Regions from separate parts of the Homo sapiens genome. Here all the other regions are linked to region 4. The links come from fine-mapping of genetic effects on gene expression. A gene starts in region 4. Each other region holds a variant in brackets. All regions are shown on one strand. Distances are from middle to middle.

What was found. PIP is the estimated chance that this variant, and not a neighbour inherited with it, causes the effect. A credible set is the group of variants that fine-mapping cannot tell apart.
Region 1: its variant is the best candidate, but not a certain one, in a credible set for the expression of CDKL1 in whole blood (TOPMed, PIP 0.85).
Region 2: its variant is the best candidate, but not a certain one, in a credible set for the expression of CDKL1 in whole blood (INTERVAL, PIP 0.50).
Region 3: its variant is the best candidate, but not a certain one, in a credible set for the expression of CDKL1 in whole blood (INTERVAL, PIP 0.64).
Region 5: its variant is the best candidate, but not a certain one, in a credible set for the expression of CDKL1 in unexposed skin (GTEx, PIP 0.53).

The regions. Positions count from the first base shown.
Region 1 is chr14:50,330,364-50,336,142 of GRCh38, forward strand. It overlaps CDKL1 (cyclin dependent kinase like 1), which reads right to left. Exons shown (of 10, transcript NM_004196.7): 8 at 4,202-4,258; 9 at 1,899-2,069. Among named protein-coding and RNA genes, the nearest start is that of DMAC2L, 21 kb to the left of the region's middle. RefSeq lists an enhancer at 5,180-5,779. The variant G/C (reference allele first, on the strand shown) is at 2,045.
Region 2 is chr14:50,344,475-50,350,401 of GRCh38, forward strand. CDKL1 (cyclin dependent kinase like 1) reads right to left here. Exons shown (of 10, transcript NM_004196.7): 4 at 512-584. Among named protein-coding and RNA genes, the nearest start is that of DMAC2L, 35 kb to the left of the region's middle. RefSeq lists an enhancer at 3,037-3,331. The variant G/A (reference allele first, on the strand shown) is at 2,784.
Region 3 is chr14:50,323,420-50,329,314 of GRCh38, forward strand. It overlaps DMAC2L (distal membrane arm assembly component 2 like), which reads left to right. Exons shown (of 6, transcript NM_001382507.1): 5 at 526-697; 6 at 2,190-4,538. The coding sequence ends at 2,304. CDKL1 (cyclin dependent kinase like 1) reads right to left here. Exons shown (of 10, transcript NM_004196.7): 10 at 2,846-5,895. Among named protein-coding and RNA genes, the nearest start is that of DMAC2L, 14 kb to the left of the region's middle. The variant T/A (reference allele first, on the strand shown) is at 3,247.
Region 4 is chr14:50,393,412-50,399,338 of GRCh38, forward strand. It overlaps CDKL1 (cyclin dependent kinase like 1), which reads right to left and starts at 3,470. Exons shown (of 10, transcript NM_004196.7): 1 at 3,413-3,470; 2 at 2,290-2,918. The coding sequence starts at 2,457. RefSeq lists silencers at 3,174-3,623, 3,563-3,788 and an enhancer at 3,382-3,881.
Region 5 is chr14:50,699,202-50,705,128 of GRCh38, forward strand. It overlaps the pseudogene ZFP64P1. Among named protein-coding and RNA genes, the nearest start is that of SAV1, 34 kb to the left of the region's middle. The variant C/T (reference allele first, on the strand shown) is at 3,200.

The sequences.
Region 1 (5,779 bases), 63 kb before region 4:
TTATATTAAAAAGGAAAAACATTCACATTAAAGAAGATTTAGAGAATATGAAAAGGGGAAAATCTACATGTTAACATTATTGGGAAGAAAACATAGATTTACAGGAGTTGAGAGCTTGCTGAGATCTTAGGGATCATTTAAGCCAATGCCTTGTCTTATAGCGGAGAAAACTGATAAACAGAGCACCTAGGCAATTTGCCTACTCACTCTCTTCCCTTAGTTAAAAAGGCAAATCAAGCATGGCACAGTGTACACTTGTAGTTCCAGCTACAAGGGAGGCTGAGTGGGAGCATCCCTTGAGCCCAGGAGAGCAGCCTGGGCAACATAGCAAGATCCCCATCTCTAAAGAAAAAAGACAAACTGCTTCCTTCAAGCTTCCTGAAAATGTTTGAATTTATTGTCAATGTCAAATGAAAGAACACACCTGTATTTTTTGTATTGCACTATATGTCCTTCGGTATCCCTAAAAAGGGAACTGTTTAGTACTTTTACTTTCTAGAAAAAAATTTTTCAGCCATTGTCCTCAGAAAAGTGCTTTTTAGTACTTTTAAATCAGTTGATTCTTTCAGGATTTAAAAGCAGTACACCAGGCCAGGTGCGGTGGCTCATGCCTGTAATCCCAGCACTTTGGGAGGCCAAGGCGGATGGATCACCTGAGGTCAGGAGTCGAGACCAGCCTGCCAACATGGCGAAACCCTGTCTCTACTAAAAATATAGAAATTAGTTAGGCATACTGGCACATGCCTGTAATCCCAGCTACTGGGGAGGCTGAGGCAGGAGACTCACTTGAACCTGGGAGGCAGAGGTTGCAGTGAGCCAAGATCATACCACTGCACTCTAGCCTGAGCGACAGAGTGAGACTCAGTCTCAAAAAAAATCAATACACCAAATAGTGGAGTTTCCCTATTTTTTCAAATAGAAATATTTCCATCAAAACCTTTTGCTCTCGAATACAAACTAATACTGAGATAAGGAATAATTCTGGCGTGGGGGTGGAGGAGTCTGTTTCTGGCCTGTTGTGCTACCTGGGTCACATATGATGGAGAATAAAACATTAATTTTGTAACTGTGATCTACATTAGGGCCCTGGAGTTCATGCTGTACTTGTTCCTCATGGACCTTTTTCACCCTTTTCCCTCCTCCCAGCCTCATACACAACACACCCTGGTACCATTCAGCATGCTGGGCAGTGGAAGCTGCAAAGAGAAAGACTAAGGCAAGATAATGTATAGCTTAAGGAGTACCTAGGTAGATCCTGAGGTTACCCAGGATCAGTTGTGGTTCCAACTACAGTTCATTCTAAATTATTACAGCTTTTGGCTTATCACAAGATGCTTAATGTAAGGCCATTTTATACCAATCAGGATTCTTCACAGTCTCCCAGTGTGCAGTTTGGATGCTGTTCTCTGGTTAAATGTATTCAGCTGATACCACCAAAAGCACTCATCACTGTATTTGCCCTAGCCAACTCTGACAAAGGATCAGGGAGGAAAACAGCTCCTTTTTTGGACAAACCTGGAGTGTTAGTTTTAATACTAAAAGTGTACATGATGACACAGAACTGCATGGGGAAAATCTGATTTCATTTTCCAAAGCCCAAAAAGTCTCCTTAGCTGGACTCATACTCATGTACCTTGTTGAGACCTGTGCTCATGCAGGCTGGAAACCCTGGCCCCTGTGTGGCATCAGGAAGCAGCAGGACAAGGGCACCTTTAGGATTCAGGGAGAGGGGGCTTCAGGAGACAGATGTCCCTGGGGCCCTGGTTGATAGATCCTATGACCTGTCTCCTAGTGCTGGAATGAGGATGCTGGAGCTGAAAGCCACAACTGCCATCCTCAAGTCTAGATTCCAACTCTCTGTACCAGGTGGCAGGTAGGAGATCATTTCAAATTATAACCTTGGATGTTTCTGTAAAGCAGTGGTGCTTTCGGCTCTTTCTTAGGGTCTTCCTTGTTGGTTTGTTGTGTTCTTTTGCCAAATCCTCTATTTCTCTGATGTTTTCAAAATATGGGTGATGCAACAGCTGTTCACATGTCAGCCTTT[G/C]AGTAGGGTCCATGTGGAGACAGCCCTAAAAGAACAGAAAATTCCTTCTTCTTACTTCTTCAAAATTGTATTAACTTATTAATGTCATTTTTTTCTTCTTTGAAAGATGAAACTTCAGTTGCAATAAGAAGGGGGAAAAGGCAGGAAAACACACCAGTCATGATTTTAGTTCCTTCCAGTCATTCCTAAATGGCACTCACATATTAAATAAATAGTTTCTAGAAGTAGTAATGAAAAATCATTTTCTCCACCTTATTCTGTTCTTGAAGCAATTGGTACTCTGCCCTGGGAGAGTAAGATATAATTTTAGAGTTTACCTCAGTGGCCAAATGGGGTAATCCATTTAGCCAGTTTGGTCCCTTGCATGTACTTTGTAAAAACTAGTGTTTTTATTTTAAAAATGATATTTACACATGATAACAAATACAGTTAATACAGCATACAGCAAAGTCTCCACCACTGTAGGTGTTCCCTTCACCCTTCTAAAATCAGCTACTTTTTTTTTTTTTTTTTTTTGGTGTATCCCTCCAGAAATAGTTGATGCATTATAAGTATATATGATCATGTATATAAGGAGAGGCATAACGTACATGCCTTTATATTACATCATTCTTAACTATTTTTGTTGCAACTAAGTAGGCCATGGAGCTCATTCTTGGATAGATTAGATTAAATTTCACAACTACATACTCCAAGGAATTGACTCAGTTTTTGTTGGTTATGTCAGAGGTGTTGAAACCACAGCAACACCATCTTGAATAGGGGCTGGGTAAAATAAGGCTGAGACCTACTGGGCTGCATTCCCAGGAGGTTTGGCATTGTTACTCACAGGATGAGATAGCAGGTCGGCACAAAATATAGGTCACAATGACCTGATGATAAAACAGGATGCAGTAAAGAAGCCGGCCAAAACCAAGATGGTGATGAAAGTGATGTCTGGTTGTCCTCACTCCTCGTTGTACACTAATTATAATGTGTTAGCATGCTAAAAGACACTTTCACCAGCACCATGACAGTCTACAAATACCCATAGCAATGCCCAGAAGTTACCCTAAATAGTCTAAAAAGGGGAGGAACCCTCAGTTCCAGAAAATCCCTGCCCTCTCCTGGAAAACTCATAAACCACCCCTTGTTTAGCATATAATCAAGAAATAACTGTAAGTATACTCAGTTGAGCAGCCCACAGCACTGCTGCCTATAGAGTAGCCATTCTTTTATTCCTTTACTTTGTTAATAAATTTGCTTCCACTTTACTGTGTGGACACGCCCTGAATTCTTTCTTGCATGAGGTCCAAGAACCTTCCTTTGGGGTCCGGATTGGGACCCCTTTCAGGTAACAGTTACATTATCATTTATATTAACTCATTATTTAATACATCAGTAAATAAATAATTTTTAAACCATGTGGGACATTGACTGTAACTTGCAAACATTTTAGTTGATACCATACCTCATTTTACATAAGAGCTATATTTCTAAATATATATATATATAAATATATATATCAAGTTTTTAAATGTACTTCAAATGTACCAGGGAGTTAGCTATTTAAAAGGATCCTGCAGCTAAGGATTTTCTGAAGAAAAAGTTCCCTTTGTAAAACAATCACCACCCCCCTGAAATTTCTGTTTTGTGTAAATTTAGACTTCAAATATAATGTTAGGTTTATTTAAAGTGGAAAATACTTGCAAATGTTTTCTTAATAGGATGTGATCCATTTAAAAAAATTGAAAATATACTTTTCCAAGGAGAATTTTTTTTTTTTTTGAGACGGAGTCTTACTCTGTCACCCAAGCTGGAGTGCAGTCGTGCAATCTCAACTCACTGCAACCTCCGCCTCCCAGGCTCAAGCAATTCTCCCGCCTCACCCTCCTGAGTAGTCGGGATTACAGGCGAGCGCCACCACGCCTAATTTTTTTTATTTTTAGTAGAGACGGTTTCACCATGTTGACCAGGCTGGTTTTGAACTGACCTCAGGTGATCTGCCTGCCTTGGCCTCCCAAAGTGCTAGGATTACAGGTGTGAGCCACTGCCCAGCCAGGAGAAGAATTCTAAAAGGAACACTTTTCATTGCATGGATTGACATAAGTAATTCAGATTCCCCAGTGATGACAACTGCTGTGTGCTTCCTGGTCTGTTGGAAGCCATGATTTTTACCTTTAGGAGCCCCAGGGCAGGATAAGAGATGTTTGGGAATTTTAATTCAAGTGGTTCCTGTTGAAAAGAAAAGAGGTTTTTAATTTACAGCATGTATTCAAATTAAGGTTACCTCAAATTAAATCTTTTGATAGAAACATTTTCCTGGCACCTTCCTCACGTCCTCCACCCTTTGCCCACCCAACCTCCTGCCCAAAACAGTCTCCCTTTGCCTTTTTCACAAGCTTTCTCTCCCCACCTCCAAATCGCTTTTCCAAATTTGCTTCGTAACTACTCCCTTAACTTCCTGCTCTGATACCAATGGAGATAGCAAATTATAAATAAAAATACTAATGAAAAAAAACTTTTCTGAGCAGTTTTTTTTTTGAGGGGGTGGGGGGGCTCAAGTTATATAACTTGCCTTTCCTGAGAATAATTTTTGGCATTTATAGTGTGATTTATAAAAAGGTAGCTGGCTGGGTGCGGTGGCTCATGCCTATAATCCACTCAGGCCAAGTCTGATGGCTTGAGCCCAGGAATTTGAGACCAGCCTGGGCAACATGATGAAACCCTGTCTGTCTCTCTAAAAAAAATACCAAAAAACTAGCTGGGGGTGGTGGTGTGCGCCTCTAGTACTAGCTACTTGGGAGGCTAAGGCGGGAGGATGGCGTGGGTTTGGGAGATTGAGGCTGCAGTAAGCCATAAATGTGCCACTGCACTCCAGCATGGGCGACAGAGCAAGACCCTGTCTCAAAAAAAAAAAAAAAAAAAAAAAAAGGCAGCTCTAATTCTAATTATATAAAGGGAGCTGCAAAATAGATGTTTTTCCCCTACCCAGGTGAACAGATGCTTCTTGATTTTCTGGAATAAACACTGTTGTCTCCTCCCACTAGGGCCTGCTGCTTCCCTTCTCAGCCTGCTGTTTAAACAGTCTCCTGTGGGGCATTCGTCAATCTCCTTTTGGCCGTATAAGGCGATTTTGCGCCAGTCACGTGCTGGAGACAATCAGGAATAACACTATAAATGGGAGGAATGCCGAATGTCAGGCAGACAAACAGGCCAGTTAAAGAGACATACCACTGACAAAGGCTAATTGAGCAGAGAGGCTGAGAAAATAAGAGCCAGCCAAGCTGAGCAAAATAAGTGACTGCAGTGCATTGTGTGTATAAAAGTGGCAGTGTGTGAGCTGCCGACTGGAGTGACTGGCCAGGCTCATCTAATCAAACAGTCCTGGTGCTGTGGCCAGCTTTCACAGTACAGTATTATTTTGGACAGGCAACCAGCTCCCAATAACCAATTCTGGATTGTACACATACTAATCATTGATAAGAGTAGGAGAGAAGAGCCTCTGTTTCAGAGTTCCCTATGTCAACAGGAGAAAAAAAAAATCCTAAAGTAGGTTTGTATTAGCCCTTGACAGTAGCCCCTGTTGCACCCTCATACTTCCACTCATGCTCCATAGCTTAAATATTTCTCTTGTTCTTTCTGTCGGTTGAATCTGAGCATCACTGGGGTTTGACGTGCCATTGCTATATCATCGAGCTCTGCTGTCTCAGCAACAATGTCTGGATGAGGCCAACTGGTTGCCTGTGATACGCT
Region 2 (5,927 bases), 49 kb before region 4:
TTTTTTTTTTTTTGAGACAGGGTCTCATTCTGTCATCCAGGTTGGAGTACAGTGGCATGATCTTGACTCACTGCAGCCTCGACCTCCCCAGCTCAAGTGATCCTTCCACCTCAGCCTCCTGAGTAGCCAGGACCACAGGCACACACCACCGCACCCAGTTCATTTTTTTTTATTTTCTGTAGAGACAGGGTTTTGCCATGTTGTCCAGGCTGGTCTTGAACTCCTGGGCTCAAGTGATCTGCCTACCTTGGCCTCCCAAAGTCCTGGGATTACATGCAGGAGCCACCATGCCTGGCACTAGTTTCTTAAAATCATAAAAATGCATGTTTTATATAACCTGAGCAAGAAGGAATAGCTAGGTTGGCATTTTTAGCCTATACTTACCCAACCAGGCTTATGAAGATTTGGGTAAAAAATTTTACCCACAGAAGTGTGACATAAACTTTGTACAAGGCTCCACCTCAGCTTAAGGGGAGCCTTGTTGCTTTTCAAAAGAGATCATGAGACTTACATTGTGTTTATGGCAAAAATTTACAGCTTGCAGTGTCTGCCAAGTTATGCTCTTCACGAGATGTTCTGGTACCCTAATAAAAATAAAGCAGCACAAACACATTCTTTAGTGTAGCCATGGAATTCAGCTCAAGAAAAGAAAAAATAAACGAAGATAGGCTTTAGTAGTGAAAAATCTTAGGTGACACATAGTCATCTTACTCATCAATCATTCCATGAATCCAAAATGTAAAAATATGCGACCAGCACACCGCTGAAGTCTAGGGAGAACAGGTTAACAAAAATGCAAACATCTACTTCTTTGGTAAGGACATGAAAACCTACAGGGATTTCAACAAGTATTTATAACCACCTATCTCAAACATCTGTGACACCACTGGGAAACTGCCTGGTAACTTAAGCTCCATTTTCACAAGGAATTTTTTATTGATGTAAAGTTAAGTTACTATTCAGCACAAAAGATGCTGTTTATTTTCTCAAGTTGCCCCAAACAGACAGCCTTGAAGCAGGACTCATCTTCCATGTGTGGGCATGTGGTCTCTCAGAGCAGCATTGCTGTTGTTTGTTTGGTTTTTTAGATAATGAAGACTTTACTGATTATAGCAAAGAGCTTTACATTGCAAACCATTCTATTTGTTTTTTAGCATCCCAGATCTGCCCTACCAGGGTCTTGATGCAGTCTCTCTTGCTCCCCCATCGTAAATTGTTATTAAATGTTAATAATAATTTAAAAACCTGAGGCATCCTGGTTCTTTCCCTATGCTGCCATGGCAGCCAGCTGCAGCCCAGGTACATCTTTCTACTCTCTCCTCCATCACCACAGCTAAACTTCAAGCCACTGCTCCCAGTACTTCTTCCCTGACTCACATCTTTTATTACCAGGGCAACCAGTAGTTCCAGCAGGTACTTTGTGTGAATTAGAAAGAGGCATCTCGCCTGGAAACATTTAAAACAACAACAAACCAAGGCAGGGAGTGTAAGAAACGAACCACAGAGAGAGTGCATTTATTTTCTGAGACCCCAACCCACTGGCTGGACTTACTGTTTTGATAAACATTCCACAGTGTTGCTGTGGTCCTCAGCCAAAACGAATAAGTAAATCAGGGAGGAAGCTCTTGAGTAGCTGTGTTAAGGGGACTACAAAAAGTCACTTGTAGCCTCTGAGAGAGGCTACAAGGCCACTGTTGTCACAGGCCAGACGTTCAGGAAATCCTTTCAAGCAGATCAGGGGGTGTTTGAACAGAGAGTGGGATCACATGAAGGAAAGGAAGAGGCCACTTCCAGGAAGGCTAGTTGGGACATTGCTGGACCAGGTCTATGTCCCTGTGTTTGAAGTTGCTTCTCTCCAAATTCTCTTTTCCTTGTTTGAGCGGCATATAGGCATAGATGCTAGAAAAAGTCACTGTCGAGAAAAAAGGCTTAGAAAAATGCAACTAAGATGAGACATTAGGGGGAATGCTTTTCCCCAGCCTCCACTTTTAATTTTTTTTTTTTAGGGTCAGGGTCTTGCTGTGCTGCCCAGGCTGGAGGCAGTGGTGCTATCATAGCTCACTGAACTTTGGACTCCTGGACTTAAGGGATCCTCCTGCCTCAGCCTTCCCAGTAGCCTCTACATTTTGTCCAGAAAAATGGAATATATTTTGATTATTCAATAAATTAAATTTTTGGTTTTTTTTTTTTTTTTGAGATGGAGTCTTGCTCTGTCACCCAGGCTAAAGTGCAGTGGTACAATCTCAGCTCACTGCAAACTCTGCCTCCCAGGTTCAAGCGATTCTCCTGCCTCAGCCTCCAGTAGCTGGGATTACAGGTGTGTGCCACCACACTCAGCTAATTTTTGTATTTTTAGTAGAGACAGAGTTTCACCATGTTGACCAGGCTGGTCTCAAACCCCAGACCTCAAGTGATACGCCCACCTCAGCCTCCCAAAGTGCTGGGATTACAGGTGTGAACCACCATGCCCGGCCTGCAAATTAAGTATTAATATAGGGTTACCAGTACCAGGCAACTTTAGTTCCTACAAACATTTCCCCAAATAAATTATATAAAAGGAGCATATAAAAGTAAATTATAGTTGCATATCATTATTGCTCCTTTAATCCCCAGCACAGCTAATCCCCAGAATTACAAAACTCTCAAATGTAAAAACTCTGTACAAACTACTTAGTGCCATCTTGAACTGGCTACTCACTTCACTTCTTTACTCAGTTTCTTTTCTGTAATGCAGAGGCCTCAGACTCTGAGATCCCTTTTAGCTGAAACACTCATAATAAGAG[G/A]GGCCAGTTTTTCACTGTTGGAGAAGGGAGTTACAACTATAAAAAGGGGAAAAATAGATAGAATATATTCTGTGGTGTTGGATTTAGAGAGAGAGAGAGAGAGACAGCGTGAGAGTGCTGTGCTAGAAGGGGTTGATCACCTTATATAGGATGGCCCAGAAAGGTTCTCTGGTTAAGGGAACATCTAAAATAGTGGTTAAGTGGTGAGAAGTGGCCAGATTTGGGCTATATTTTTAAAATAGAGCTTCCAGGATTTTCTGAGGGATTGGATGTGGGAGAAAGAGAAGAATCAAGGAATGACATCAGGTTTTTAGCTTGAGTAACTGGTACACAGTGGTGCCTTTTACTCAGGAGAACACTGGAGGGGAAACTGGTTTGGGGGAAGGGAATGCTTACTGGACACCCAAAGGAAGACTGTGAGTCAGCAATTCTACATTCAGAAGGAAGGTCAGGCTGGAAATATGAGTTTGAGAAGCATAGCATATGGGTGGTATTTGGGGCCTAGGACTGAATGAAGCCAATTAAGGAGTGAATCCAGCTAAAGAAGAGGAGCTCGGAAGGAAGCTGTGAGACCCTTCCCCACAGAGGAGCAGAAAGAGGAAGGGGACCCCACAAGGGCACCTGAGTTGAGAGCATCAAGTGAATAAGACAACACTCAGGAGAATACAGTATCACAGGACCAACTGAAGAAAGTGTGTCAAAGGACTTCTGAATTAAGATGATGGATTAAGCAAGCCCAGCTAATTTTGTTCCCTCCTGAAACCTGACTAGAACTACGCTGAAGACTTCTAAAGACAAAACCTCACAAGGTCAGAGAGGACAGGAGAAGAGATAACAGCAACACAATGTGGAATCCAGAAAGCAACTGAATGAAAGATAATTAACTTAACAATCCTAGAAAGCGAAAATCTAAGCCAGGAGAGGGAAGGTGGAGAACCAACCAATTCATCCAGAAAGAATCCTCAAAAGGCTCGGGAAGTAGCAGCCAAAGTCTCTATGGAACTAGGAGCTAAGGAGTATGGAAAAAACTGTTTAGAAAATAATTAAATCCCTAGATCCCCTCCTCTATCATTTGCCCATAGGGAAACACTCTCCACTACTGGGCAGAAGGCTGGAGCTTTGTTTCTGGAAAGGATAAAGCAGAGGACATTTGGCATACGTGAGATTGTGGATACCGTTCTGAAAATGTGGATACTGTTCTGAAAACAGGGGATTAAAGGACTGTACACATACAAAATGCTGAATGCTGGGATTCCCCACCCCTCTTCCCTCACTAGACTCTGGGAAACCCGGCAGGCAGACTTCACTCTCCAGGCACAATATTCAAAGACTTTTTTGGGAGAAGCTCAGAGGGAAAGCTCTGAAGATTCTGACACTGGGGTTCCACCAGCAAATGGCCCAGCTAGAAAACCATAGTGAAGCTCAGAGCTTCCAGTAGTTCCTTGTTCTTAACTATGAGCATATAACCAGAGACTATATGATGCCCAAGAAAAGCCTCTAATAAGAAAGTAGAAGACCAGAACAAACAGAAAAAAGCAACTTAAAAGAAACAGAAATTATGGAGGATGAAGAGAACATTTTTAAATACCATTAATATCCTCAGAGAGAACAGGAAAGCTGTTGTATCCATGAAATAAGAACAGGATACTACAAGAAAATGGGAGGACCAGTTCAAGAGTCCACATCCCAATAATAGAGGGTACAGAAAAAGAAAATAGGTAAAACAATGAACAGGAAGTCAATAACAAAACAATTCAAAAATTTTTTTCTGAGGCAGAAAAGGCCCAGCAAGTGCCAGGATAATGGATGAAAATCAAGACACACTCATGAGTTTCATAATCAAAAACACTGAGCACAAAGAGAATCTCCTACAAGTTTCTGGAAAAAGAAACAGGACTTCACAAGAGAGCAGAAAATAGAATGGCATCAGGCTTCTTGGCACTAGAAGATAGAAGACACTAAAATAATGACTTCAAAAATTTGAAGGAATATTATCTTCAACCAAAAACCAATAAACAAGCCTATATCCAAACAAAATACCAAACCAGTGTGAGGATAGAATAAAGCATGTGAGGGCAAGGTCTCAACCTCTTATTTGTTCCTGTACCTCTCATCTGCTCTTTCTCAGGAAGCCCCTCATGGATGCAGTCCACCAGAAAGGAGCAGTCCATTATCAAAGAAGATTATGTGGGCTGGAGACCCAATGCAGGAGGGAAGCAGCAGGAGTTTCTGGGAGGATGGCAGAGGGAGATGACGGGATAACTGCACTCCAGGTGGCAAAAGCAACCCATCCTGACAGGACAGTGTGACCCAAGAGCCATGCACAGTAAGGGGTATCATCGCCATGCCCTCTGCCTCATGCAATCTTAAATAAATATGAATATATTCAACAAACTTAACAGCTCTGGAAGAGTCTGGGTGACTGGCTGGACCCTTCAGGCTAAGGCAGATGTTTTGATGTTCTTTGTTCTTCTCTCTTGTCTTTTTGTTGTTGTTGTTGTTGTTGTTTGTTTTTTGTTTTGTTTTTTTGAGACGTTGTCTCCCTCTGTCACCCAGGCTGGAGTGCAGTGGTGCTATCTTGGCTCACTGCAACTTTCTCCTTCTGGGTTCAAGCAATTCTCCTGCCTCAGCCGCCCAAGTAGCTGGGATTACAGGCACACACCACCACACCCAGCTAATTTTTGTATTTTTAGTAGAGATGGGGTTTCGCCACGTTGGCCATGGTTGGCCAGGCTGGGCTCGAACGCCTGACCTCAGGTAATCTGCCTGCCTTGGCCTCCCAAAGTGCTGGGATTACAGGTGTGAGCCACCGTGCTTGGCCAATACTTTTTTTGCAGAAATGGGGGTCTTGCTGTGTTGCCCAGGCTGGTCATGAACTCCTGGGTTCAAGTGATTCTCCTGCCTTGGCCTCCCAAAACACTGGGATTATAGACATGAGCCACTATGCCTGGCCTAAGGAAGATGTTCTTAAAATTGTAGCCCGTGCTAGCAAGGCTAGGGAACTCATTCCACCTTAAGATATTTGTTTCCACATTGGTGGTAAATAGTGGTTGTGGCTGAGCTCTAGGGCAGAGTGGGGAAGGGCTAGAACAGGTATGAAGAAAAGGGGCTCAATTCCTTCTCATTCTTTACTCCCTTTAATAG
Region 3 (5,895 bases), 70 kb before region 4:
GTCTCACTCTGTCACCAAGGCTAGAGTGCAGTGGCGTGATCTTGGCTCACTGCAACCTCTACCTCCTGGGTTCAAGTGATTCTCCTGCCTCAGCCTCCCAAGTAGCTGGGACTACAGGTGTGCACTACCACGCCAGGGTAATTTTTCTATTTTTAGTAGAGACAAGGTTTTGCCGTGTTGACCAGGCTGGTCTTGAATTCCCGACCTCAGGTGATCCACCCGCCTCAGCCTCCCAAAGTGCTGGGATTACAGGTGTGAGCCACTGGGCCTGGCCCTATGTGGGCATTTCTTTCCTCCAGTGTGTGGGCATCTGACTGCGGAATGGTCCTGTCCATCAGCACAAGCTCTATAGTGAATTCCTTATATGGTTAATAGGGTGAGCAGTCATTCCAGTTTTCATGGAACTAAGAGGTTTCCCAGGACATAGGACTTTCAGTCCTAAAACCAAGTCAGTCGTGGGCAAACCAGGACAGTTTGTCATCTTAGTGGTAAAGCAGATTCTTAATCTGTACTTTTTCTCCCCAGAGGGCCTAGAGCATGTTGAAAAAATAAGGCTGTGCAAGTGTCATTATATCGAGGATGACTGTTTGCTGAGACTTAGTCAACTTGAAAATTTACAAAAAACCATATTGGAAATGGAAATAATATCCTGTGGGAATATCACAGACAAAGGCATCATTGCTTTGCGTCATTTAAGGTAGATGATCAAAGCCAAAGTGGAAACTTGATAATGCTGTTAAGGTGAATAGTTAGAATTTAATTGACTGTGAGGGGTGGTGTCTTTTTTTAGTTCTAAAAAAGATAATTTTAAAAAATGACCTCACTTTCATCTGTAATATTTTAAAACAGCTAAAATGATCAACCTTAATACATTAATGTTGTATTGAATTTTTTATAGAGTATATTTTAAAAAATTAAATCTACATTAAGCACCTAGCATGGTGCCTGCCACAGTAAGCCCTCAGTAAGCATCAACGATTATGCTTTCTCTCCTTTTTTTTTAAAGCAGTTTCTCCTATGGTTTTAATATTTTCAAGACATTTGGTATATACCTATTAGCATTTTACTGTGTAATTATTTTGCTTGAGGGGAGAAAAACCTTGAAATATTCACCTTTCTGTCTCTAGAGCCTAGAACACTGCCTGACACTGTAATAATCATCAAAAGCATGCATCCACTGGTTAGGAAAGCTGTTCTACATCCTCTTGTGCCACCAACCAGACCCACGCCATGGCCTGGAGCAAGTCACCTAATCCCAAATGCAAAAACAGATAATACTAGCAAGGAATGTTTAATTCTAAAATTTGTAAGATTCTGAGTCTCATCGGCGTGATGAAAAAAGAATAGAAGTTTTTTTGTTTGTTTGTTTTTTTGAGACGGAGTCTTGCTTTTGTTGCCCAGGTTGGAGTGCAGTGGCATGATCTTGGCTCACTACAACTTCCGCTTCCTGGGTTCAAGCGATTCTCCTGCCTCAGCCTCCTGAGTAGCTGGGATTAAAGGCGTGCACCACCACGCCCGGCTAATGTTTGTATTTTCAGTAGAGATGGGGTTTCGCCATGTTGGCCAAGCTGGTCTCGAACTCCTGAACTCATGATCCGCCCGCCTCGGCCTCCCAAAGTGCTGGGATTACAGGCGTGAGCCACCGTGCCCGGCCTAGAAGTTTGTTTAATCAAATCCCTGTGTTAGAGATCTCAACATTCAAATTATGTATCTAATTAATGTAGTTCTGCTTTAATATATAATGGATCTGCCAGTAACCTCAGTATCACAGGAAGTTTAAGAAATTTTAAACATTAGGACCAAAAGTACTAGATTGTTCATCTCTTACATTACTTGAAGCTTCAAAGCTTCATCTTTTAGTAGAAACTCTAGTATCTAAGAATTTTCCCAGCTTTTGCCCTTTTGGGGTTGAGATTCACATTTCATGTTTCACATGCAAAGAATATCTACATCATTATAAATATATATTTTATTTAGAATGATTCAGCTAGAAATATTGATGTAACCCAAAGTCTGTGTTACTTCCTGGCATGAATTTCATCTCTAAGGCTACTGCTCTAAAAGTAATTTTGAAGGCATAGGGTGATATAGATTCATTTTCTACATAATTTTCTTTCTTTAAGTCAGTAAATTGAATTTATTTTTAATGCTCTTGGCCAAATTGAAGTGACTTTTTTCTTTATTTGCAGAAACCTCAAATATTTGTTGTTAAGTGATCTTCCTGGAGTAAGAGAAAAAGAAAATCTTGTCCAAGCCTTTAAGACAGCACTGCCTTCTCTGGAACTAAAATTACAATTGAAGTAAAATAATGTGTCTTATTTCAGTATAAAGGATCATTTGAAACTGTTGATTCCAAACATCAACTAATATTATATAGTCATCAGTAGAATTATAAGGATGCCATATCATGACATTTTAGAAGTGGAGAGTGCATCATATGTAGAAAATAAATATTCAGACGTGGCTCATTAATGTTACTAAGTTGGAAGTGAGAATTTATGAACATTAATTCATTTTAAGAAAAGTGCAGCCAGGCGCAGTGGCTCATGCCTGTAATCCTAGCACTTTGGGAGGCCAAAGCGGGCAGATCACCTGAGGTCAGGAGTTCAAGACCAACCATGGCCAACATGGTGAAACCCCATCTCTACTAAAAAAACAAAATTAGCTGAATGTGGTGGTGCACGCCTTTAATCCCAGCTACTCTGGAGGCTGAGGCAGGAGAATCACTTGACTTGGGAGGTGGAGGTTGCAGGGACCCGAGATTGTGCCACTGCACTCCAGCCTGGGTGACAGAGCGAGACTGTCTCAAAAAAAAAAAAAAAAGAAAAATGTAAACTAGGTAACATTTTAATTCTAATATATTCATTTAATATGTAAATCTATAGATATCTCTTGATGTAGATATTTAGAATCCTTTAAAGTTATTTGTACAACAGATGTTTTTATTATAACAGTAATTTACATTTAACTTTAAAGTTAGTGAAGCATACTACCATAAATGCACAATTATGAAAAATTAGAAGCTAAATTACAGATTCATTGATGGAGTCAATTATGCAAAGTGGTCAGTGGTTGTTGAAGCATGCATTGCTTCAACAGGATTTGCGTGCATTTCCCATGATCCTGCATTCTTGTGTTCTTGATAGCATACAGACTTACTCAGAATCAACAGTTGCTGCTTAATTTGTCTATTTTGTAAGCTTAGGCTACTATTTTATTAAAACTGGACATAGATACTTGGCTGAA[T/A]ACAAATAGTTTTGCAGATTGCAATATAATAAAGGAAACAGTAAAAACTAGTGGGCTATGCTTAGGTTTTTCTTGAAACCTAACATTGCTTTAGGCTGGGTGCCGTGGCTCGTGCCTGTAATCCCAGTGCTTTGGGAGGCTGAGGTGGGAGGATCACTTGAGACCAGGAGTTTGAGACCAATTTGGGCAACACAGTGAGACCCCATCTCTAAAAAAATTTTAAAAATTAGGCAGGCATGGTGGTGCATACCTGTAATCTCAGATACTTGGGAGGTTGAGGTGGTAGGATTGCTTGAGCTCAGGAGTTTGAGGCTGCAGTAAGCTATGATCACGGCCACTGCACACCAGCCTGGTAGCCTGGGTGAAAGGGGGAGACCCTGTCTCTTAAAAAAAAGGGCTGGCCTGTAATCCCAGCACTTTTGAAGGCCAAGGCAGGCAGATCATTTGAGCCCAGGAGTTCAGGACGAGCCTGGGCAACATGGCAAAACCCTGTCTCTACCAAAAAATTAAAAAATAAAAAATAGCTGGGTGTAGTGGCACATGCCTGTAGTCCCAACTACTCAGGAGTCTGAGGTAGGAGGATCAGTTGAGCCCGGGAAGTCGAGGCTGCAGTGAGCCATGTTGGCACCACTGCACTCCAGCCTGGGCAACAGATTAAGACCCTGTCTCAAAAAAAAAAAAAAAAGTGAAAAATAGATAAAACAGGTCTTCATTGTTACCTGTGAGAAATGGCCCTGATTCTATTACTCTTATATGCCAGTTTGTTTATAGATTTCTGTGTGTTTGATTTGAACTTTTTTTTTTTTTTTTTTTTTTTTGAGACAGACTCTCACTCTGTTGCCCAGGTTGGAGTGCAGTGGTGTGATCTCAGTTCACTGCAACCTCTGCCTCCCGGGTTCAAGCAGTTCTCTGTCGCAGCGTCCCAGGTAGCTGGGATTACAGGCGCCCACCACCACGCCCAGCTAATTTTTGTACTTTTAGTAGAGACAGGGTTTCACCATCTTGGCCAGACTGGTCTTGAACTCCTAACCTCAGGATCCACCCGCCTCGGCCTCCCAAAGTGCTGGGAGCCACCGCGCCCAGCCTGGTTTGAACATTATTAAGCTGTTGAATATAAACTTGAAAATAATTTTCTATGATACAGCTTTCAGGTAGAAAAATGAATTTTCGTTGTGTTTAACAATGTTGTGTTTAACAGCTTATACAAATAACACAGTATAAATGGTAATTGCCACTGTCATTTTAAAAATCAGAAAATAGTAAATAAAAGGATGTGGAAGAGTCTCATGTGATACAGTGGAGATTTCATACCGAATAAAAGCATTATAAATATGGTTAAATTGAACATAAGCATAAATTTAACGGAACTCATTAGAAAAAAATAAGCCTTTTTTCTCAGGTTTGTTTCATTACTGTATGGTGAGACAACTGATTCACCACGATTTAGTCTAGAGCTACTTTTCTATTCTGAATAGTTTTTGGTAAAACTATTGGCTGAATTATTAGGCTGTTATAGTAATCTGCCTCCGTCAAGTGTATTTTCTTGGGTTAAGGAAAAAAAAATTTTTTTTTAACTATTCACGGAAGCTGGATGTTCTTCCTTGTCATTTGAATCAAGGCCGTCTAACAGGAATTGAATAATTCAGGGACTAGCATTTAACCCATATCAGGTCTAGGCAAGAAAAGACATACATTAGGAAGCCTTAGGATATCATTAAACTGCCTAGGGTAGTCAAAATTATTGAGTAGACACCAGACCTCAGTGGATTACTTAAGTAAATGGGGTCAGATGTCATCATGAAGAAAATTAACAGGAAGAAAATGAGAGTACAGAAGAAATGTTTTGAAAATAGAGTGAAATACAACTTTGAAGACCATGGCTGAGAAGTGCTAGGAATAGTGGCAGCACATCAACCAGAAATGGTGTTGAGCTGTAAGAAACAGACGTCAGGCTTCATATTGCCCTTGTGTCCAGGGGACAAGGATGAAAAAGCTTTTTGATTAAGAGCAGTAGACCAAATCAAAGCTAATTATGTCATTTTGGCCAGGCGCAGTGGCTCATGCCTGTAATGCCAGCACTTTGGAAGGCCAAGGCGCTCAGATCACGTGAGCCCAGGAGTTCAAGACCAGCCTGGGGAACATGGCAAAACCCTGCCTCTACCAAAAAATACAAAAAAATTAGCCAGTATAGTGGCACATGCCTGCAGTCCCAGCTACTTGGGAGGCTGAGGTGGCAGGTTTTATATATATATATAAAAAACACATATATATATATGTGTGTGTGTGTCATCATTTTAAGTCTCACTGTGCAAAGCTATGAGTCCTCAATACTTTGGACTACTTAGTGTAATATATTAGTTGTTAGAATAGCATATATATATATATATATATATATATACATACACATACATACACATACAAACATAGTGCAAAAAGATGTTTCAGGGAAAACATCAGTTTACAACATAATGTCTTTCATGACTCAAGTAAAAGCTCACAAGTAATTTCTTCTGAAACCCAGATCACTGAATTACAGGTTTGCCTATAGATGTACCAGGTCAAAGGCTGTGCCAGAGAGAATGAAATACTAATTATTTTCAGGCTGATAGGTTCAGTTCCTGCAAAGCCTGTAGGTCTTGCTCTACCCTT
Region 4 (5,927 bases):
AAATGGAGAAAATAAAATGTTCATTTACCATACCCTCAATTCACCTACTCAACAAATATTTATTAAGTATCTTTATTTTATAAGTGACAGGGTCTCACTGTCACCCAGGCTAGATAGAATACAGTGGCCTAATCATAGCTCACCATAGCCTTGAACTGCTGGGCTTAAGCCATCCTCTTGCCTTGGCCTCTTTCCTTAGTAGCTAGGACCACAGGCACGCACCACCATGCCCAGCCTAGTACGTATTATGTGTTAGGAATATCACACAACTCTGAAAAGTTACAGCTTTAAAGAACAGACTCTACCTATAATCTAGTCCCACCATTTCATAGAGATCAGTGGTGTCTACATCTGTGCACTTAATTTGGAGAGTGGGGTGCTGCATGCTTTGAAATCAGGCTCATGTGTACACAACCCCATCCTTTGGAGGATATCAATATTCAGATAAGAGAACACATTTGACTTCCCCATTTATTGGCAACATCCACCTTTGTTAAGAGTTTATTTTGTTAACTTTTTTTTCCAATCCAACAATGACATTTTTTGGAGGCCTAGATGTGCCAACTAGTGTGCTTTGGGGATATAGAGCTACAGAGGCAAGGTCTCCATCCCAGAAGAACTCAATGAATTTGGGGAGCTATCACTGTTAATGTAGTATTGATAAAGTGTAGTGAGAGATTTGAAAGGAGCATTCACAAAAGTAATCTTCAGAATCAGAAAAAGAGTATCTTTCTGCAAGAAACAGATTTTCTTTCAGGTAAATGAACCCTTTGAAATGTAATGATCACCTCCTCCCCTGGGAAAGCCTGAGGAAGTGAAAATGCCCAACAGCCTCTCCCTGTGTACAGAGAGGGTAAGGGTAGGGTGACCCGGGCAGGGGGATGGTCAAAACACTGCAGGTCTCACCCCTGCCCATGGGAGCACTCCCCTGCGGGGCTTTGGAAGCATCTCCTCTCAATAGATAATATCCTGTTGGTTAAGAACATTCCAAACCTAAATAGAGAAGTTGCCCTGTTACCCACCCATTCCAATTTATCCAAAGCTTGCTACTTTCCATTTAGGTTCCTTATCTAGAAGTGACCCCACACACTTATCCATGGGCACAAGATTTGTAGAGTGATCTGGAGAAAATGGAGAAGCAAGAATAATAGTAAATCCCCTGGAAGTTTCATTCATCTGTCTCTCATCAAGTAGCTCTTCCCTTGTCACATAGTAGTTATACAGGTCAGAACAGAGAGGCCATAACTGAAACAAAGTTGACCTCCACCATATTCATTACATGTCACCTTTCACATTGCGATTTGGATTTTACCTTCACAGAAGTTCTGTAAAGTAGTCTCTCCATTAGCGAAAAACACACTTTCAGCTTGTAATAAATACCTTTCCCCCCTCTGATATCATGTTATTTTTAGGGTTAACTAATAAACATTTGAAAAGTGATCAGGCCAGGCTCGATGGATCATGCCTGTAATCCCACCACTTTAGGAGGCCAAGGTGGAAGGATCACTTAAGGCCAGGAACTCGAGACCAGCCTGGCCAACATAGCAAGATCCCATCTCTAAAAAATGTTAAAAAAAATTAGAAAGTGATCATTTCACTTCTTTAAGAAAAACGCTTCTTTTTAGAAACGGGACATGATGATGCTCAGCAGTAAATACATATGAGGTGTAATGAGAATCTGTGAGCTTCCTAGCAGTTTGAAAACAGGTAAATGTTAATTCTCTTAATAGACTGAGTATACCAATAGGAAATACCTTAGAAGTTTAAAAATCAACAATGCCAGCAAAATTGAATTGTCTTACATTCCTATACTATCAAATTGTAATGGTCCTTGAAAACCCAGGTCTACAGGTGGGAGAGAAATTATGGGGAAGAAAAATAAATATCCCACAGCATCTCTAAAAGTGAATGCCACCTTACCTGGCACTTTTGTCTCTGCTTTCTAGTTCATTATATAATTAGTGACTTGTGCACAGATATCCCATTTGTGTCACTGAAGTCAAAAGGCTATGAAGTAAGATATAACCATGTCCCATGACATTCTTTTAACATAACATGACTCACTTTATTTCTTTCATCCCTAAAAATTCACTTTAAAGAAAAAGTGGATCCCGGAGCAGTGGCTAGAACCTGTAATCCCAGCTACTCAGGAGGCTGAGGCAGAAGCATGGCTTGAGCCCAGGAGTTCCAGGCTGCTGTGAGCTATGATCACATGGCTGCACTCCAGCCTGGGAGACAGAGTGAAACCCTGTCTCGAAAAAGAAAAAAAAGGAAAAGTGAATCAATTACCTTGAGCATTCGGATTTCCCGAAGGGCAATTTTCTTTATGACAGGGTCATCTTCTGATTCCAGAAACTTCTTGATGGCCACAATCTGACCCGTGTCCCTGTTTCTACATTTGAAAACAACTCCATAGGATCCTTCTCCAATTTTCCCAATTTTTTCATACTTCTCCATCATAGAGGAATAAATCTTCTTAAAATGGATCTTCAGCCGAGAATGGTGGCTCACGCCTGTAATCCCAGCACTTTGGGAGGCTGAGGCGGGCAGATCACCTGAGGTCAGGAGTTCGAGACCAGTCTGGCCAACATACTGAAACTCCGTCTCTACTAAAGATACAAAAAATTAGCCGGGTGTGGTGATGGGCGCCCGTAGTCCCAGCAACTCAGGAGACTGAGGCAGGAGAATCGCGTGAACCTGGGAGGCGCAGGTTGCAGTGAGCCGAGATCGCGCCACTGCACTCCAGCCCGGGCGACAGAGCGAGATTCCGTCTCAAAAAAAAAAAAAAAAAAAAAAAAAAAAGAAAGAAAGAAAAGAAAAGAAAGGATCTTCACATAGTTTGAAAACGTCGCTTATAAAATATTGGCACCAACGGACTGCACTAGAGCCCCACCCAACGATGAGTGTTTGTCACGGTCCTAGAACAGAACAGCACATGTTAAGGAATGAAGAGTGTACCCGTGTCGGCAATGGCAACGCGATCAGGAGTAACAGCCTAGAGTTAGCTGCCTCCAGTAACCCGATTTTAATCGCCCGTTAAATACCCTGTAAGTTAAAATGTAACTTGCCATCCTAAAACGAGCCGAGCTGTAAGATAAGCTATCTTTTTAACGTTATCGTTCATCCGATCTAAGACACCTGAGCTGGCTGGAGTACGGGGAGGGCTAAGGGCTTCCCCGGTTCTAATTTCGGGTCTCATTTCCCTGCGGCAAGAAGACACCTCCCGGCTCCCCGCGGAGGCGGCGGCGAGGCTTGGCCGCAGGAGACCAACCCGCGCCCCGCGCCCCACGCCCCCGGGACTGGGAAAACCCTCCCGCGCCCGGACGTGCACCTCAGCCGCGCCGCGCAGCATGGAGCGGTGCCACGTGTTGGCCAGGGACGGCCCGCGCCTCCTTGCCCGCCCGGGACTCACGGCGCCGCGGCGGTCAGGGACGGGCCTGGCTCCCGCCTCGCCTTCTTCCGCCCAGCTCGGCTCGGCGTGGCTCGGCCCGCGATCCCTATGGGAACCGGCTCCCGCCCCGGGTCTGCCTGGGCGGGGCCGCCGCGCCCCAGCTTCCCACCCCCGGCCCGGCCCAGCCCGGCCGCCCTCCCGGCTGCAGGGAAAGGCCTCGGAGGGCCGCCCTCCGTCCATGGGAGCTGTCCTGACCGCGGGCCGAGTCCTGCTGCCGGGAGAGCAGACCTGCTAGATTTGCAAACTTCCGCAGGCCGTGCAAAGCGCAGCTGTAACCGCGTCTGCGGAGCAAGACGCCTGCGCTAGGAGCCCCTCCTGAGCGGTCCACATTTCCCTGCAACAGCAGTCCCCACACCTCAGAACCGCGGTTATTCCCTTTGGTCCCTTGGAGGCATCTTCTGTGTCTGTGCTGATCAGTGCTGCGGCGTCAGTGAATGAATGAGAGGGAGAAAGGAAAGAAGAGGAAGGCGTGACTGCAGAAATTGCTTAAAGTCAGCACTTTCCTCTACAGTAGGGAAGGTTCCACGGCAGTCTTCTGCTGTGGGACTTTTCTGGTGTGGGAGGTGGAAGCTTACAGAGTCTGCCTTAATTGTTTTTGGTTCCTTTCCCCCATCTTTCTCCCAACGGACTCCTACTGCTCAAATCTGAGCACACTGGCGGGAAGCGGATGGACCTGGGGAAATTATGAAATCATGTCAGTTGCCACTGGGCAGAGTGCCTCACACTTTATCATCCGTCCCGTTCCCAGTGCCAGCATCAATGCGGGTACTTGTCCTGGAAGCAGTACCCGAGGAGAGAAAATTAACACAGTGTCTATGAAACAGGGGCCAATCCCGTGTCAAGCAGCATGCTACTAAATGTAAACCCAGGAAGGGTTCAGAAAGGAGCCTGGAGCTGAGGAGAGAGGGCTGGTGGCTGCCCTGGAAACCCAGTACAAGGATGGCCTAGAGGTGGTCTGTGAACAGAAATTGTTTGCAAATGGCAACCATTGATCTGTTTTCTGTCTCTATAGTTTTGCCTTTTCCAGAATGTCATGAAAATGGAATCAGACCGTATGTAGCCTTTTGAGGATAGAGGATCTCCCCCACCACCCCAACTCCAGTGAGCTTTCAGATGAGATTGTAGCCCCAGATGACAATGTAAGTTCAATCTTGTGAGAGACCTTGAGCCAGGGGCACCCAGCTAAGCCATACTTGGGTTCCTGACCTCTAGAAACTGAAATATGTTTGCTATTATGTTTTGGGGTAATTTGTTATGCAACCATATGTATCTAACACAGAAGCCTTTTATTAATAGGAGGTTGAGAAAGTTCACTTTCATTCCTAGTTTGCTTAGTGTTTTTGTTTGCTTTTTAAAATTATGAATGGATGTTGAATTTTATCAAATGCATTTCTTCATCTAGAGGTGATCATTTCCTTTTCCTTTCTTTTCTTTTTTTTTTTTAATTGAGAGGGAGTCTCGCTCTGTCACCCAGGCTGGAGTGCAGTAGTGTTATCACTGCTCACTGTACCCTTGAACTCCTGGGCCTAAGCAATCCTCCCACTTCTGCCAGGCCTGAGTAGCTAGAATTATAGGTGTGCACCACCTAATTGTTTTTATGTAGTCTGTTGATACGGTGAATTATATTGATTTTTAGATGTTGAACCAACCTTTTGTTCCTGGGATAAACCCAACTTATTTATGATTTTATCATTTTAATGTATTGCTGGATTTGATTAGTAATATTTTATTGGAAATTTTTACATTCATGTTTTGAGAGATATTGATGTATAGTTTTCTTGTAATATCTGCTAATTTTGGCATCAGGATAATGCTGATCTCAGAAAATGAGTTGGGAAGTGTTTATCTTCCCTTTTATTTTCTAGAGATGTTTACATTAAATTGGTATTATTAATTCCTTAAATGTTTGGAAGAATTTTTTTTGTTTTTTTTTTTGAGACAGTCTTGCTCTGTCATCCAGGCTGGAGTGCAGTGGTGTGATCTTGGCTCACTGCAACCTCTGCCTCCCAGGCTCAGGCGATCCTCTTGCCTCAGCCTCCAAAGTAGGTGTGCCACCACGCCTGGCTAATTTTTGTGTTTTTTGTAGAGACAGGGTTTCACCATATTGCCTAGGCTGGTCTCCAACTACTGAGCTCAGATAATCTGCCTGCCTCAACCTCCCAAAGTGCTGGGATTACAGGCATGAGCCACTGCACCCCGCCTTCTAATATAAGCATTTAATGCCATAATTTTTCCTGTAAGCACCACTTTAAATACATCACAGAAATCTTAATATGTTGTATCATCATTTTCATTCAGTTCAAAATATTTTTTTTTTTTTTTTTTTTTTTGAGATGGAGTCTCACTCTGTCACCCAGGCTAGAGTGCAATAGTGTGATCTCGGCTCACTGCAACCTCCGCCTCCCAGGTTCAAGCGATTCTCCCACCTCAGCCTCCCAAGTAGCTGGAACTACAGGCATGCACCATCATGCCCAGC
Region 5 (5,927 bases), 310 kb after region 4:
TTGGCTTGGCTTTTGTTGGTGTATAGGAATGCTAGTGATTTTTATACATTGATTTTTGTTTTCTTTTGTATCCTGAACTTTTGAAGTTATTTATCAGCTAAAGGAGCTTTTGCGCTGAGACTATGGGGTTCTGTAGTTATTGAATCATGTTGTCTGCAACAGAGATAGTTTGACTTCCTCTCTTCCTATTTGGATGCCCTCTATTACTTTCTATTGCCTGATTGCTCTGACTAGGACTTCCAATACTATGTTGAATAGGAGGGGTGAAGGAGGGCATCCTTGCCTTGTGCAGGTTTTTAAGAGGAATGCTTCCAGCTTTTGCCCATTCGGTATAATGTTGGCTGTGGGTTTTTCATAGATGGCTCTTATTATTTTGAGGTATGTTCCTTGAATACCTAGTTTATTGAGTTTTTAATATGAAGTGGTGTTGAATTTTATCAAAAGCCTTTTCTGTGTCTATTGAGATAATCATGTGGGTTTTGTTTATGTGATGAATCACATTTATTGATTTGTGTGTTTTGAACCAAACTTGCATCCTGAGGATGGAGCCTACCTGATTATGATGTATTTGCTTTTGGATGTGCTGCTGGATTTGGTTTGCCAGTATTTCATTGAGGATTTTTACATCAATGTTCATCAAGGATATTGGCCCGAAATTTTCTTTGTTGTTGTTGTTGTTGTTGTTGTATCTCTGCCTGGTTTTGGTATCAGGATGATGCTGGCCTCATAGAATGAGTTGGGGAAGAGAACCCCCTCCTGAATTTTTTTGAAATAGTTTCTGTAGGAATGGTACCAGCTCTTCTTTCTACATCTAGTAGAATTCAGCTATGAATCTATCAGGTCCTGGGCTTTGTTTGGTTGGTAGGCTATTACTGATGCCATTTCAGAGCTCATGATCGGTCTGTTCAGGAAATCAGTTTCTTCCTGGTTCAGTCTTGGAGGGTGTATGTGTCCAAGAATGTATCCATCTCTTCCAGGTTTTCTAGTTTGTGTGCATAGAGGTGTTTATAGTAGTTTGATGGTTATTTCTATTTCTGTGGGGTCAGTGGTAATATTCCCTTCATCATTTCTAATTGTGTTTATTCAGATCTTCTCTCTTTTCTTTATTAATATAGCAAGTGGCCTATCTGTCTTACTAACTTTTCAAAAAACCGCCTCCTGGATTCATTAGTTGATCTTTTGAATGTTTTTTTGGTATCTTGATTTCCTCCAGTTCAGCTCTGATTTTGGTTATTTCTTGTCTCCTGCTAGCTTTGGGGTTGATTTGTTCTTCTCTTATTCTGTCAGTTGTAATGTTAGATTGTAAATTTGAGATGTTTCTAACTTTTTTTTTTTTTTTGAGACGGAGTTTCGTTCTTGTTGCCCAGGCTGGAGTGCAAACAGCATGATCTCGGCTCACCGCAACCTCCACCTCCGGGGTTCAAGTGATTCTCCTACCTCAGCCTTCCGAGGAGCTGGGATTACAGGCATGTTCCACCACGTCCAGCTAATTTCGTATTTTTAGTAGAGATAGGGTTTCTCCATGTTGGCAAGGCTGGTCTGGAACTCCTGATCTTAGGTGATCCACCTGCCTCAGCCTCCCGAAGCGCTGTGATTACAGGCATGAGCCACTGTGCCCAGCCGAGATGTTTCTAACTTTTTGATGTGGGCATTTAGTGCTGTGAATTTCCCTCTTAACACTGCCTTAGCTGTGACCCAGAGATTCTGTTATGTTATATCTTTGTTCTCATTAGTTTCAAAGACTTCTTGATTTCTGCCTTAATTTCATTATTTACCCAAAAGTCATTTAGGATCATGCTTCATTTCCATAAAATTGCATGGTTTTGAGCGATATTCTTAGTCTTGTGTTTTTATTGCACTGTGTTCCAAAAGTGTTTGGTATGACTTTGGTTCTTTTGCTTTTGCTGAGGATTGTTTTATGTCCAATTATGTGGTCAATTTGAGGAGAATGTATATTGTGTTTTGGGGTGGAGAGTTCTGTAGAGGTCTATCAGATCCATTTGGTCCAATGTTGAGTTAAGGTCTGAATATCTTTACTAATTTTCTGCCTTGATCTGTCTAATACTGTCAGTGGAGTGTTGAAGTCTTCTACTATAATTGTGTGGGAGTCTGTCTCTTTATAGGTCTCTAATAACTTGCTTTATGAATCTGGGTGCTCCTGTGTTGAGTGAATGTATATTTAGGATAGTTGTGTCTTCCTGTTGAATTGTACCCTTTACCATTATGTATCACCAGTGAAGCCTGCAATATAGCAAAGATAGTAGCCTGCCTTTCCCTCTGAAAGTTCTGCTCCAGGGAATTAGGGACCTGTTGCCAGCCCAAGCAGACCTGTAGGAGGTGGCTGGAGACCCTGGTTGGGACATTGCTCCCAGTGAGGAGGAATGGGATCTGAGACTCAGTTAAAGTAGTCTGGGCTGGACACAATGGCTCATGTCTGTAATCCCAGCACTTTGGGAGGCTGAGGCAGGCAGATCACTTGAGCCCAGGAGTTTGACACCAGCCTAGGCAACATGGTGAAACCCGCCTCTACAACAAAAAATGCAAAAATTAGACAGGCATGGTGGTGTGTCTATAGTTTAGCTACTTGGGAGGCTACGACAGGAGAATCACTTGAGCCCAAGAGGCAGAGGTTGCAGTGAGCTGAGATAGAGCCATTGCTCAGTTTGGGCAATGGGAGTGAAACCCTGTTTCAGAGGCAATCTGGCTACATTTTGGTAGAGCGGTTGTGCTGTGCTGGGGGTCTCCTTCAGTGCCGGACACTCCAAAGCTCAAAGGCCAGAATAGCTAAGTGACCCAAACAGCGAAGATGATGGCCTGCACCTCCATCTGGGAGCTCCAGCCTGGGGAGGCTTGAAACTTCTCTCAGCTGAAGAACACTCGTGGGGATAGCTTCAGACCCTTCCTGGTGATCAGGAGTAGGATCAGGGACCTGCTTGAAAAAGCAGTCTGGCTGTGTTTTGGTAGGGCAGCTGTGCTGTGCTGGGGATCCACTTCAGCCCCTGGTCATCTTGGACTCTCCAAAGTCCAAAGGCTAGAATAGCTAAGTTACCCAAACAGTAAAGATGGTGGCCCACCCTTCCCTCTGGGATTTCTGTCCCAGGAAGTTTTCAAATCTGTGTTTGCCAGACAGCACTGGTGGGGGTGGCTGGAGGCCCCAGTTGAGAATTCCTGCCCAGTGAGGAGGAACAGAATTGGGGAC[C/T]GGCTTAAAAAAGCAGTCTGGCCATGTTTCACAGGGCAGCTGTACTGTGCCGGGGTACTGCTTCTGCCTGGTCAGAGGTTGACTTGGACTCTCCAAAGCCTAAAGACTAGAAATACTATCACCCAAACAGCAAAGATAGCAGCCCACCCCTCCCGCTGGGAGCTCCATCCCAGGGAGGCTCCAAATCTCTGTTGGCTGGAGAACATGGGCGCAGGTGGCTGGAGGCTCTGGTGATCCTGCCCAGTGAGGAGGGATTGGGGACCTGCTTAAAAGAGCAGTCTGACCACGTTTTATAAAGCAGCTGTGCTGGGGCATCCCTTCCGCCCCTGGTCAGCTTAGACTCTCCAAAGCTTGGAGGCTGGAACGGCTAAGTTGCCCAAACAGCAAAGATGGCAGCCCACCCTTCCCTGCTGGAGTTTTATCCCAGGGAGGTGCAATGCTGCTACCAGTGGCTGTCTGGAGTTCTAAGCCAGTGGGTCTTCATCTTGTGAGGTTTGTGGAAGTGGGGCCTGCAGATTGTCACTGCTCAGCCCCCTGGATTCAGCCTTTTTCCTAAGGATATGTACAGAGGTCAAACCTCCCGCTTTGCTGGAGTTGCAACTACTTTTGCTGGGAAGTCTGGAGAGTCCGAGTATCAAGGCTTTCCTGGGTCTCCACATGTGCCTGAGTGGCTGTTCTGTTGAGACTCCATGTAGCTGTGTGTGTCAGTCAGAAGGCCCTGGTGGAGTGGGTTCACAAGGAGATCTCCTGACCCAAGGATTGCAAAGATCCATGGGAGAAGCATGGGTTCCTGGGGTTGTACATTCATGTGCCACTACCCAGGGTCGGGGGAGGTTCCCTTGGCTCCATGTTGCTCCTGGGTGGGCCATCATCCTGCCTTACTTTTCTCCATCCTCCATGGGTCAAGTTGCTTCCTTGATTAGTCCCAATGTGAGTAACTAGATGTTTAAGTTGAAGGTGCTGTATTTACTTGCTCTTTCTGTTCCTCTCCATGAGAGCTACGTATATTACCTGCTTCTAGTCAACCATCTTGGCCACCTCCAGCACCTAGGATCCTTTAAAATGTATTGAAACTTGTTTTATACCCCCGAACGTGGCTGATCTTTGTTAATTTTCCATGTGTTCTTAAAAAGAATGTGTATTCTGCTGCTGCTGTTGAGTGGAATGTTTTATAACAAGTTTGTTGTCAATGTTCAATTCTTCTACATCTGTGGTAGGCAAATTAAATATCACACAAAGATTTCCATGTCTGAATCTTTAGAAGTTGTGAGTATGTTATTTCAGTTGACAAAAGGGATTTTGCAGACATGATTCAGGTTAAGGAAACTTAGATGGATATTTAGATGAAGCCTAGGTTGTCCAGGTGGGTCCAGTCTAATCACATGAGTTTTTTTGTTTTTGATTTTGTTTTAACCTATGAGTCTGCCTTTTTATTGCAAGACAACAGGTAGAAGAAACCACACAAACATATAAGGCAAACACTCTTAGAACGATCATCCAGGTTATGAAATAGAAGTTTTCCAGCAATCCCAGACTCTTCATGTACACCTTCTTCACTTTAACCTGTCCCACTATAGAGATTAGTTTTAGTTTTCTATATCATCTAACTAGTTTAATAATTCCATCAGAGATGGATCAGTTTAAAAATTGGAATCTGTTACATAGAAGCTATCCGCATTGGATAGAGCAGGGCTCAGCAGACCCTACGTTTGAATGACTAAGTTGACTTGCTCAGATTGTCCTGGGAGGGAAGACACAAATGCAAGAAGTGTCTCCATAGTACTGCTTTGCTTTTATCATTGTCATCTCAGCCATCGCCTCTGGAGGCCTGTGAAATTGGAGCAGCCAGCCCTGGAAGTGGTGCCCAAAGCCTGTCTCACTGGCTTCATCTTTTGGAGGGGTGGGCAACAGCATTTGTCAGAAATCTTGACAGCTGAGGATCCTTTTCCTCTGAGCTAGAGGTCTTGGCTGGGCTCCAGGGGAGGCTTGAGCTGCCCCACGGAGACCATGGTGCTGAGCTGTCCCGAGGCACAGCTTGCAGGTGGGAAGGCGACCAAGTCTGAGTCCTTGTTCTCACTCTGATCACTGTGCTGCTGCTTGTGGCATCTCAGAGTCATCCCTGACAAAGGCGGCGCCGCAGGTCTCACAGCGAAAGGCCCTCTGCCTCACGATCTTGGCCACGTGTCGGGAGCTGCTCTGTGAGCCCTTCCTTGCCCGGAGAGGCCCAGTTCTCTGTCTTGGCCTCATCCTTGTGCACCCTGTCGATGCGCTTGGCCAGGCTGCTGGGCCACTTCGCGTCGGAGCTGCAGAAGTCACACTTGAAGTTTCAGTCCTTACAGTGGACTCCGCTGTGTATGCACAGGGCGGCTGCGCTGGAGCAGGAGTTGCACTCAGGACACTTCTCTGGGTGGTCGGCCTGGTGCAGCCAGCTATGCTCCAGGAAGTCAGCCCATCCTGGCCCTGGAAGGCACAGTGCAGACACTTGAAGGTGTGCTTGATGCGGATGTGCGATTTGAGATTCGCCTTCATGGTGCAGCGGACGTCGCTGCAGAACTCGCACTCGAAAGGCTTCTCCCCCAGTGCACGATCATGTGCCTTTTCAAGTCTGAGCTGATTTTGAACTTGGCGCTACAGAGCCAGCACTGGAAGGAGATATCCCCAGTGTGGGATCGCAGGTGGACGGTGAGCTGGCTGGAGTTGCGGCTGACATAGGGGCAGAGCTGGCATT